3 linked regions of the Homo sapiens genome follow. The protein of the gene in region 2 purifies or fractionates together with the protein of the main gene of each other region. This does not show direct contact. Each region holds a gene or a part of one and is shown on either strand. Other genes may lie near its edges. The genes, in order: FBXL18, FBXL16 and SKP1.

The links.
Region 1: the proteins of FBXL16 (region 2) and FBXL18 purify together in Homo sapiens (affinity purification with mass spectrometry; 2 studies listed by BioGRID and IntAct, with this or other methods). This does not show direct contact.
Region 3: the proteins of FBXL16 (region 2) and SKP1 purify together in Homo sapiens (affinity purification with western blotting; 5 studies listed by BioGRID and IntAct, with this or other methods). This does not show direct contact.

Annotation. Positions count from the first base shown.
Region 1 is NC_000007.14:5,507,129-5,510,874, forward strand, and holds part of FBXL18 (F-box/LRR-repeat protein 18), read right to left. Parts: intron 1-3,746. UniProt on the Homo sapiens protein: Substrate-recognition component of the SCF (SKP1-CUL1-F-box protein)-type E3 ubiquitin ligase complex.
Region 2 is NC_000016.10:692,173-695,918, reverse strand, and holds the end of FBXL16 (F-box/LRR-repeat protein 16), read left to right. Parts: coding exon 1-504; intron 505-842; coding exon 843-927; intron 928-1,221; coding exon 1,222-1,285; intron 1,286-1,495; coding exon 1,496-1,644; 3' UTR 1,645-3,419; downstream 3,420-3,746. UniProt on the Homo sapiens protein: Substrate-recognition component of the SCF (SKP1-CUL1-F-box protein)-type E3 ubiquitin ligase complex.
Region 3 is NC_000005.10:134,149,266-134,153,011, forward strand, and holds part of SKP1 (S-phase kinase-associated protein 1), read right to left. Parts: 3' UTR 1-3,746. UniProt on the Homo sapiens protein: Essential component of the SCF (SKP1-CUL1-F-box protein) ubiquitin ligase complex, which mediates the ubiquitination of proteins involved in cell cycle progression, signal transduction and transcription.

The sequences.
Region 1 (3,746 bases), on a different chromosome or scaffold from region 2:
TCTACACGACCCTCTGGCTCCAGCCTGCTCCTGCTTCCTGTACATATTTGCCTGGATGGAAGCTCTGAGTTTTGCAAAGCCAGGCTGCTACCATGGCAACCGTGAAGGCCATGGAGGAAGAGCCTATCTGCACACCCCACACGGGTATCGGAGGTTTCCTGGGAACTCTGACTGCGACAGTCCTTTCACCCTCTCCAGACAGGATTCCCATCCTGCTAAGCCCTCGCCAGGCCCTAGACAGGTGTGCTGGAATGTGTCCCACCTTTCTTCCCTGGGAACAAAGAAGTACCCTCCATCCTCCAAAAGAGAAAGCCACACGGAAACCAAAGGACATGGCCCGTAAGGACCCATGAGGCTCATGAGGGTCAGAGGTTAGACACTTACTTCTACCTTCCCTCCTAATATTTTAATAATTAGCAGAACAAGGCCGGGCATGGTGACCCACACCTGTAATCCCAGCAGTTTGGGAGGCCGAGGCGGGGAAATCACAAGGTCAAGAGATCGAGACCAGCCTGGCCAACATGGTGAAACCCCGTCTCTACTAAAAATACAAAAATTACCGGGGCATGGTGGCAGGCGCTTGTAGTCCCAGCTACTCAGGAGGCTGAGGCAGGAGAATCGCTTGAACCCCGGAGGCAGAGATTGCAGGGAGCCAAGATCACACCACTGCACTCCAGCCTGGGCAACAGAGCAAGACACTGTCTCAAAAGAAAATTAGCAAGACAGGCTGGGCACAGTGGCTCACACCTGTAATCCCAGCATTTTGGGAGGCTGAGGAGGGCAGATCACGAGGTCAGTTCTCGAGACCAGCCTGGCCAACATGGTGAAACCCTGTCTCTACTAAAAATACAAAAATTAGGCCAGACGTGGTGGCTCACGCCTGTAATCCCAGCACTTTGGGAGGCCAAGGCAGGCGGATCACGAAGTCAGTTCTCGAGACTAGCCTGGCCAACATAGTGAAACCCCATCTCTACTAAAAATACAAAAACTAGCCAGGCGTGGTGGCATATGCCTATAGTCCCAGCTACTCGGGAGGCCAAGGCAGAAGAATCACTTGAAACCGGGATGTGGAGGTTGCAGTGAGCTGAGATCGCGCCACTGCACTCCAGCCTGGTGACAGAGCAAGACTCCATCTCAAAAAAAAAAAAAGAAAGAAAAAAATACAAAAATTATCTGGGCCTGGTGGCGGGCACCTGTAATCCCAGCTACTCAGGAGGCTGAGCAGAATTACTTGAACCCAGGAGGCAGAGGTTGCGGTAAGCCGAGATCGCACCATTGCATCCAGCCTGGGCAACAGAGCGAGACTTTGTCTAAAAAAAAAAAAAAAAAAATTAGTGGGACACAGTGGCATGTGCCTGTTGTCCCAGCTACTCAAGAGGCTGAGGTGGGAGGATCGCTTCAGCTCAGGAGGTTGAGGCTGCAGTGAGCTAGGATCTTGCCACTGCACTCCAGCCTGGATGACAGAGAGAGACCTTGTCTCAAAAAAAAAAAAAGATAAATAAATAAAAATCAGATTCCTGGAACCCACCCCAGACTTGTGGGGCCCAATCCCAAAAGACAGACTCCCAAATCAGGGACAACCTTTATCAGAACCAGAGACAAACTTGATCAGAATCAGAGACAATCTTTATCAGAACCAGGGACAGTCCTTATCAAGGAATGAACTGTACCCCTCCCAATTCCCAGTTTGCAGATTTATGAAAGAATGCCATCACAGAGCTCACGTGGTAAGAATGAGAACTTAGGGCAAAACACTATTAAAAACTCCAGCACTGGGCCAGACGCTGTAATGCTGTGCTCACGCCTGTAAAACCAGCACATTCAGAGGCTGAGATGGGTGGATCACCTGAGGTCAGGAGTTTGAGACAGGCCTCGGCAACATGATGAAACCCCATCTCCACTAAAAATACAAAACTTAGCCGGGTGTGGTGGCACACGCCTATAGTCCCAGCTACTCAGGAGGCTGAGGCAGAAGAATCGCTTGAACCCGGGAGGTGAAGGTTGCAGTGAGCCGAGATCGCACCACTGCACTCCAGCCTGGGTGACAGAGTGAGACTCTGTCTCAAAAAAAAAAAAAAAAAATCCAGCATCATATAGATTCCACAGTTACACGACCACACTGAATTTTTCTTAAAACCTCATAGAAATTACAATAATTTTTTTTAAAAAGAGAGGGAGAGACAGCAGGCCAGGAATTAAGTTCCAGCTCTCTCCATCCAGCCACAGCAAATTCCACAACATCATTTTTTCCACATGCTGTGCTCCAAATAAAACAGAAATTTTGGACAGGCGCGGTGGCTCACGCCCGTAATCCCCAGCACTTTGGGAGGCCAAAGCGGGTGGATCACGAGGTCAGGAGTTCGAGACCAGCCTGGCCAATATGGTGAAACCCCATGTCTACTAAAAACACAAAAATTAGCCAGGCGTGGTGGTGGGCTACTGTCCACAGCAACTATCCAGCAACTCGGGGGGCTGAGGCAGAAGAATCGCTTGAACCTGGGAGGTGGAGTTTGCAGTGAGCTCAGATTGTGCCACTGCACTCCAGCCTGGGTGACAGAGTGAGATTCCATCTCAAAAAAAAAAAAAAAAAAGAGAAGTTTCATCTCAGGCCAGACCCCTGATGCAATTGTGGGGCCAGCACCCAACCTGGTGGGGCAGGTATCTGAGGGGTGATGCCCAGACAAGACGAGAAACTGGCCCAGGAAGCAGCTCGAATGGGCCCCCACCCCCACTCTCCATCTCCGGCCAGAGGACCCTAGGAGGCAGCTGCTGGGCGGGCGAGTTGAGTCATTTCCCTGGAACTTAGCTTCCGGAGACAACTTTGTTAAGTTAAGGCACCTTGCACCAAAAAAGGTGGCAAGCTCTGGAGAGGAAACAAAAACCAGGGTGCAGGAAGGGCGCGGTAGCTCATGCGTGTAATTCCAGCACTTTGGGAGGCTGAGGCAGGCAGATCACTTGACGTCAGGAGTTCGAGACTAGCCTGGCCAACATGGTGAAACCCCATCTCGACTAAAAATACAAAAATTAGCTGGGCGTGGTGGCAGGCGCCTGTAATGCCATCTACTCAGGAGGCTGAGGCAAGGAGAATTGCTTGAACCGAGGAGGTGGAGGTTGCAGTGAGCCAAGATCGCACCACTGCACTCCAGCCTGGGCGAAAGAGTAAGACTCTGTCTCAAAAAAAAAAAAAAAAAAAGAAAAGAAAAAAAAACCCAAGTTGCAGCCTGGGCAATGTGGCAAAACCTCGTCTCTACAAAAAAATTAAAAAATTAGTTGAGCCAGGCACGGTGGCTCACGCCTGTAATCCCAGCACTTTGGGAGGCCAAAGCAGGCAGATCACGAGGTCAGGAGTTCGAGACCAGCCTGACCAACACGGTGAAACCCCGTTTCCACTAAAAATACAAAAATTAGCCAGGCATGGTGGCACGTGCCTATAGTCAGTCCCAGCTATTCAAGAGGCAGAAGTGGGAGGATCACCTGAACCCGGGAAGTGGTGGCTTCAGTGAGCCATGATCGCGCCACTGCACTCCAGCCTGGGCAACAGAGTGAGATCCTGTCTCCAAAAAAAAAAAAAAAAAAATCTAGGTAACTGGCTGGAGGTCAAAGGCCAAGTAATGCCTCCCACAGGGCCTGGACTCCTAAGCCCAGAACCTCCCTTCCCTCCACCACCAGGAAAGGGCAGCTGAGGCTTCCAGACAGGTCCCAACCAGGCACCTCATTCCTGGGGTCTCCTGAAATTCCAATTCTGG
Region 2 (3,746 bases):
GCTTGAACAGATGCAGGGCGTGGTGCGTCTGGAGCTGTCGGGCTGCAACGACTTCACCGAGGCCGGGCTGTGGTCCAGCCTGAGCGCGCGCATCACCTCGCTGAGCGTGAGTGACTGCATCAACGTGGCCGACGACGCCATCGCGGCCATCTCGCAGCTGCTGCCCAACCTGGCGGAGCTGAGCCTGCAGGCCTACCACGTGACGGACACGGCGCTGGCCTACTTCACGGCGCGCCAGGGCCACAGCACGCACACGCTGCGCCTGCTCTCCTGCTGGGAGATCACCAACCACGGCGTGGTCAACGTGGTGCACAGCCTGCCCAACCTCACCGCGCTCAGCCTCTCGGGCTGCTCCAAGGTCACCGACGACGGCGTGGAGCTCGTGGCCGAGAACCTGCGCAAGCTGCGCAGCCTTGACCTCTCGTGGTGCCCACGCATCACCGACATGGCGCTGGAGTACGTGGCCTGCGACCTGCACCGCCTAGAGGAGCTCGTGCTCGACAGGTGCGCGCCCCCGGGCCGCGCCGGGCGGGGCTGGGCCGGGCGGGGCTGCACGGGGCGGGGCGGGGCGGGGCTGCACGGGGCCGGGGGCGGGGGCTTCCGGCGGGGCTGGGGCTGTGGCGCGGCGGGCAGAGCCCTCGGAGCCTGGGGAGTGGGAACCGCAGAACCGCAGCACGGGTTGGCTGGACCCCCGTCCTTCCCGGTGGGTGGGAGCGAGGAGGGGCCAGCGGCTGCTCCGGGTGGGGCAGGAAGGGATTCACGCCAGGGGCACTCCCAGGAAGACGAGGGATGGCCGGGGCCAGGTGATTTGAAGGTGGGGGTCCCCTCTGGTGCAACCACAGGTGTGTACGCATCACGGACACTGGCCTCAGCTATCTGTCCACCATGTCGTCCCTCCGCAGCCTCTACCTGCGATGGTGCTGCCAGGTACCGGCTCTCACGCCCCGGGATTGGGGGATCGGCGGGGAGGTGGGGGCGCGGGGAGAGCTCCCGGCCCCACTCAGATCCTGGGAGAGTCTGGGGCCCCTCCCTATCCAGCAGCCGACCTAAGCGGAACGCAGGGGTCCCGGCGGCCCCCACGAGCACTTCCCAGCCGCCTCCCGGCTCCGGGGGGGACGGAGGAACCCCGGGCTTGAACCCGCCTAGCCCTCCATGGACCCCAGGGTGCCCTCCGCCTCGGTGCGAGCGGAAATCGTTAAGTCGCTCCTCCACTCCCGACAGGTGCAAGACTTCGGGCTGAAGCACCTCCTGGCCCTGGGGAGTTTGCGCCTCCTGTCTCTGGCAGGTGAGACCCCCGTTTCTGCTCTGACGCTGGCAGTGACCACCCACCCCCACTTAGTCCACCCGCCCAACCTGCCCGGTCCTTGTGCAAACTCACACCCGGCGCGGACACACAGTCCCGGGTCCGAGGCGGAGGAGGAGGGAGGCGCGGCCCGGCCGTCCCCGCCCGAGCCCTGGGCCGCGCGCACTGAGCCGCCCTCTGACCCCGCCGCAGGCTGCCCGCTGCTCACCACCACCGGGCTGTCGGGCCTGGTGCAGCTGCAGGAGCTGGAGGAGCTGGAGCTGACCAACTGCCCCGGGGCCACCCCCGAGCTCTTCAAGTATTTCTCGCAGCACCTGCCCCGCTGCCTCGTCATTGAGTAGCGCGAGGCCCCCGCCCCGGTCGCGGGAACCCGGCCATGACCTGGGCGGGGGCGCGGGGCGCCGCCGAGCCCCCTCTTCCCGCCTTGCGCTCGGGGGAGCCCCCGCGCCCCCGGCCCAGCGCGGGAGGCGGGGCGAGCCGAGGGAAAGCCCCTCCCCGACCTTCGGTCCCTCCGCCCTCCCAGCCCCGCCCCGGGCAGGGGGGCGGCGGGTGGGCCCGCCCCACGCACGCACGCACACTCGGGGACTTTGTGCATGCCCCTCGTGCCCGCACTGCACGCCGCCCTCCGCCACGCCACAGCCACAGCCGCCGCCATCACTCGCTCGCCCTCCCGCTTGGGGGGCGGGGCTCGGTCCTTGGGGGGGCTTTGAGCTCTCCAGACTGTGCCCTTACCGCCTTCCCCGCCACACCCGCTCTGTCTTCCCACTGTCCCCCCCATCCCGGGCAGGGCCCAGTGGGATTGAGGGGGCTGGGTCCCCCAGGACACGGGCCCAGAAGAGCCCCACGGGCTTCCTGCATCTTCCACCGCACCATACCTGGAGCCCTCCGAGGGGTGTCAGGGGAAACAGGCCACCGCCAAAGCCATGGCCCGCCGCCGAGAGCCCAGGCCCCACCCGCACCTCCTCACCCATCCAGCCTGACCCACGCGGCCTCTCCTCCTCCTTGCCGCTGTGTGGGGCAGTCCCCTGTCCGCCCCAAAACCCGGCCTTGGTCCCTGGCCAGGCTGAGAGAATTGGGCAGGGAGAGGGCGGAAGGGCTGGCGATCGCTTGGAGTCATTAACGTGATCCCAGCTGACTCCGGTCGGCCTCAACCCAGGGGTGGCGCAGGCACCTTGCAAGCCTCGAGCTGTAGCCACCCTCAGGCCTGGGAAGAGGCCTGGGCCGACCTCACACCTCAGCCCTTGCACCCGGCCGGGCTCAGTTCAGGCCTGGGCACCGAGCTTCACCCTGGGTGGGTCTCCTCAGGTGGAGTCTGCAGAGTGGACCCAGCCAAGGGTCAGGGTCAGCACTGGGTCAGCGACTCCAATCTTCCAGTGGCCAGCACACCCTAGACACCCCGAGGAGGGAGGGCTCCTTTCTAGCCTGCCCCCCCACCCCCACTTCACCCCTCCCCAGCTTCCCAAACTTCTGTCTGCCCAAATGGGCTCTGACCGTGCTCTGTCGGCCCGAGACATTTGGAAGTCCTGGGGGATGCTGGCAAATCTCAGCTGTTGCTGAGGAGGGGGCTGGGACCCCTTCCCATCCCAACCTTGAGCCCCAGGAGATACCGCGCCCACACCCAATCTTGGGACACTCCCTATCTGGTTGGAAGAGAGTAACCAGTTTCCAGAGAGCCAGAGAGTGAGAGAGAGAAAGAGAGTGAGAGAGAGAGAGAAAGAGAGAGAGAGATGCTGTTGAATCAGAAACAGATCAACAGCCCAAAGATTTTCCTGTCCCTGGAGTGCCAGCCCCAGGAAGCTCCAGGGCTGAGTGGTCAGGAGCCAGTTTCTCCAGCCCCTCCTCCCCACAACCCCTAGTGGGGAGGGGCAGCTGTCCATTTGCCCAAAGTATTAATGCAACTGAAGCTGTGATATTTCCAACGACTGTAGGAGGAAAAATTAAGGGGAGAGAGGAAAACAAAACCAACCAACCCCTAAAATCATTTTCTTATTGTACATAACGACCTCATTCTCCTGTATATGCGGAAGATATAACCTTATATTTGGTAAGTGTTTCTTGTGCTATTTTATCACGTGACCTGTTTATAAAAATATATATTAAAAAAGTTGTAAAAACATGTGTCTGAGTTGTTTTTAGGTCCCCAGACAGCGGTGTAGGTGGGCATATCTGCCCTGCGCATCCCAGGTCTCGGGATTCTCCTGTACCTCTTATCAGATTTATTCTTTCTTGCAACAAAGGGGTAGAGGCTGGATGCCGACATGGTAGAATGGAAACAGCAGTGACTACATGGAAGGCAGAGGACCTCCCATTCCTTAAAGGGAGAGACAACACTGAAGTCACTACACATAATATTCCCTCCAACATATCCAGACTCTAGCCCACCCTTCCAGAGAGGCAGAAATAAACCCTGTTCTATACACAGTAACAGGCAAGGACAAGGATG
Region 3 (3,746 bases), on a different chromosome or scaffold from region 2:
TATTCCATTCCGTATCCATATACCATGTGTACTCACTGTTTAGCTCCCTACAACCCACTTTTTACATGAGTTTCCACCAAGTACACTGCTGTCTTCCTGAGACCTATCATGAATGTAAAAGGTGTCATGAAGGCACCTCAATAGGTCAGTCAACAAGTAGATGATACATGTCAGGCAAGAAGTATTTCACATGGGACAGCCACTGGGCCACCATCATGCATTGTCATTGTCACTCCACTGAGTTCTATTTTTTGGATTTTGTGTTTAAAGTATAAAGTCATTTTCCAGAACAGCGTCTATTTAAAGTAGGCCACTGGAAGTTGTAACCCCAGACTTGCTTTTGCTTCTGAGAGAGTGCTAGAGGACACTAGCCATTCTCTGGACATCTGTCCCATTTTAAAGAATTCTGTTCTGGCTACTGGCCTAGTTGTTTAAAAAACCTACATTCTAACCAGGGCTTATGCAAGACCAGGTTGCTGCATCTGATTTGGTGTCTCACTTAGAGTACACAGGGTACCTGAACAATGCAGTCTTTGTGTATTGGCGGGGAAGTCTTTGGCAACTCTGTTTAAATCAGATCAGCTTTTTTTTTTTTTAATCTGACTTCATAAAGGAAACTCAGATCCTCCCAAATCACCCTGGTGCATTCCTGCGAGGCCAGAGGGTGACTTGAGATTGCAACCTCAAGTTCAACTGCTAATACCACACCAGTCCCCCTTCACTGCCAGCTGAGAACCAACCCTGTTTCCTGAGACATCATAAGACAAGATACCTTAGCCTCCCTTGAACATTTCCAGACAACTAGCAGACTGGCAACTTGGGTGAAAGACGTTCATCCCTCCCCTGGTACAGCTGCTCCCCATTTTGTTCTCTGTGGATATGGTGAGGGTTCAGCCCAGCAAGCAGACAAAGCCTATGTCTCCCAACGTGAAGGTGTCTACTTTAACAGAACCCCATGGATGGACTCTCTTCTGACATGTAATTATCTTTTGAATGGCTCCTGTGGTCTCCCATTCCTTCTGGCTGTGGACCCCTAACAGCTAGCTCAGAAGCACTGCACCCTAGCTTTGTTCAGTATACATAAGCCTGGCCAGGAAGGCCACAAGTAAAGGGAAGCGGAAGGGTTCTTTATATCCTGTTCCAGAGAGGAAGAAAGGGAATCAGTTCCTGCATCCGTTTCTCAGAAAACAGCACAGAACAGAAGGGGTAAGGGTAACAAGGCCATGTTAAACTACCTCTTAGGCCTATATGTCAAAGTAGAATTTAAGACCCAAATCTAGTTAATTGTATAAAAAGGCTAAGTTGGCTTTTCTTTGAGGTTCTTTGAGAGTCCTTAACTGCGACTCTCAGATCTCTTCAGAGCATTTTTTAAGCTCTTCAGGGCTTTAAGAGTTCACCAAGGGTTTCTGAAACAGCTGCCCACCCAAGCAGACCCTGGTTGTGTCAACTCCCCCAATCCCAACTTATTGTGATAACCTTGTTCCAAATCTCAAATCACCCTATGGGCATCTTTCAAATTCTGACTCCTGAGCTCTTCTCTAATAGTTTGGAGCTACTAACAAACCATTACTGGCAGTGAGCATCTGAAAATACTCAAAACGGCACCGAGTTTGAAAACAGGAAACATAGATGGTGGGGATGTTCACATACACAGTCCCTTAGAATAAAAGCCTAGCTCAGGTCAGGAAGGATTTTCAAGCTCTTAAAGATAGCATGGGATTAGGCATGTTAACTGGAAAGGGAAAACTTATGTCCTGGGGGTGGGAACTATACTATCACAAGCAGTCCTCACAAGTTAGGTCACTATTGGTAAGGGATGTTTCACTTCTGAAGACAAGATAGCAGCTGTGAATTATGCGGGAGATAGTCCAGGCCAATACTTCTTTCATATTCACCAGGGGCTCTGGACCAAGTCTTCCTTTTTCATTCAAGTGTTCTCATTCTTTTATCTGAAGCCTAGTTCTTTCAGGCATGTGCAATGTCAGGAAGCGGGGTGGGGCTTGGGGAGGGAAGAGGAAAAGCCAGGTTCCACTCACCAAAAATAAATAAATAAATAAATAAAAATTTTTACAAAGCCACTCTGGAAACCCTGCTTGAGTACTTGAGGATAGAGTACAGCTTCTCTATTTTCCCACCCCTTTCCGTAAGCTTCCTGGAACAGAAAAATCTGCAAAGCAACTGAAGAAGGCAGTTAGAGGTTGTGAAATGGTACATTCAGGAAAGAAAGGACAAATAAGAATTTTCACCAGATAGGTGGGAGGTATTCAAAGTGAGAGCACTTTAAGGAAATAAGCTGATCCTCAGTGTGCAATAAGAGGCTGCTATATAGCAGGTTGAAAATTTGAAGTTAAGAGATATCAGAAGGTCTGAATATACTTAAATACTTCCAGAAAATTTAAAGTTGACAGATATCAGAAGGTCGCAAGAACTACAGATGTGGAAGCAGACACTGTTATGAGCAACTACATTCCTCCCATAGAATGCTGCTCAATACTGGCACACAGACCAGAGGTAGCCAGCAGTACACAAGACTGCAAGGCAACAAGTACATTATCAATGAATTAGCCATCTATCACTCAAACTATGTCCCGCATTGGAAGTGTGTCAAGCAAGAGCACCTTCGACAACACTTTTCGGCCACCACTAATGATCATCTCCACTGATGCCTCAGCAGAAAGGATAACATTCAGCCAATCCTGCTTAGGTGTCCAAATGGCTCAATCTTGGGCCAAAGGACATGCTCTGAAATATTTCTTACACCATACTTCATCTTGATATGCACAGCCAGTTCTCTTACTCATTCTCTGTGACCACTGGAGGTAGTGATTTTTAACAACAGTAAACAAGAAAAAGTCATCAGGACTCTAACTGTAAAACCCCCAACATTCAAAAGACTGGTTTAGTTGAACAGCCAAAAAATAAATAAATAAAAATTAAAATTAAAAAAATTAGAATTTAGCTCACTCAAAAATTGCCCTGCCTAATGTGGGTCTGATGAATAAATGCTGATAAAATACTACTGAGTGTCAGCAAAGTACTGTGACTAATCCTGCCCTAATTTCTCTTTAGTCTATATTCTCAGGGAAATGTACCAACACCCAACCTTCTGCTGTTAGTTCCTGACTGTGCACTGCTTTTTCCTCACTTTGGCATCTGTCCACCCCCAAACAAATCCAACTTGATTCTTGAAACCAAATTAGTTTCACTTTACAAAACCTTTCGTAGCACCTTTCAGCTCTGTAGCCCCCCATTGGCTCATTAATCTGTTCTGTCCAGAAACTTTTTTTTTTTGAAACGGAGTCTCGCTCTGTCGCCAGGCTGGACTGCAGTCAGTGGCGTGATGTCGGCTCACTGCAACTTCCGCCTCCCGGGTTCAAGCGGTTCTCCTGCCTCAGCCTCCCGAGTTGCTGGGACTACAGGCATGTGCCACCACGCCCAGCTAATTTTTGTATTTTTAGTAGAGATGAGGTTTCACCATGTTGGCCAGGATGGTCTCGATCTCTTGACCTCGTGATCTGCACACCTCAGCCTCTGAAAATGTTGGGATTACAGGCGTGAGCCACCGTGCCCAGCCCAGGAACATTTTTATTAGAGTTATCCACTCCCTCCCAGCAGTATTTATGCCTTCTCTCCTGAACTACACCAAAAGCTCCCAGCTCCCTAGAGGGAAACCATGTCTAATGCTTCCTACCAAGGAGAAGCCAGGAGCTACACTTTAAGGATTCAGCCATTTTGTAAGCTTTCCC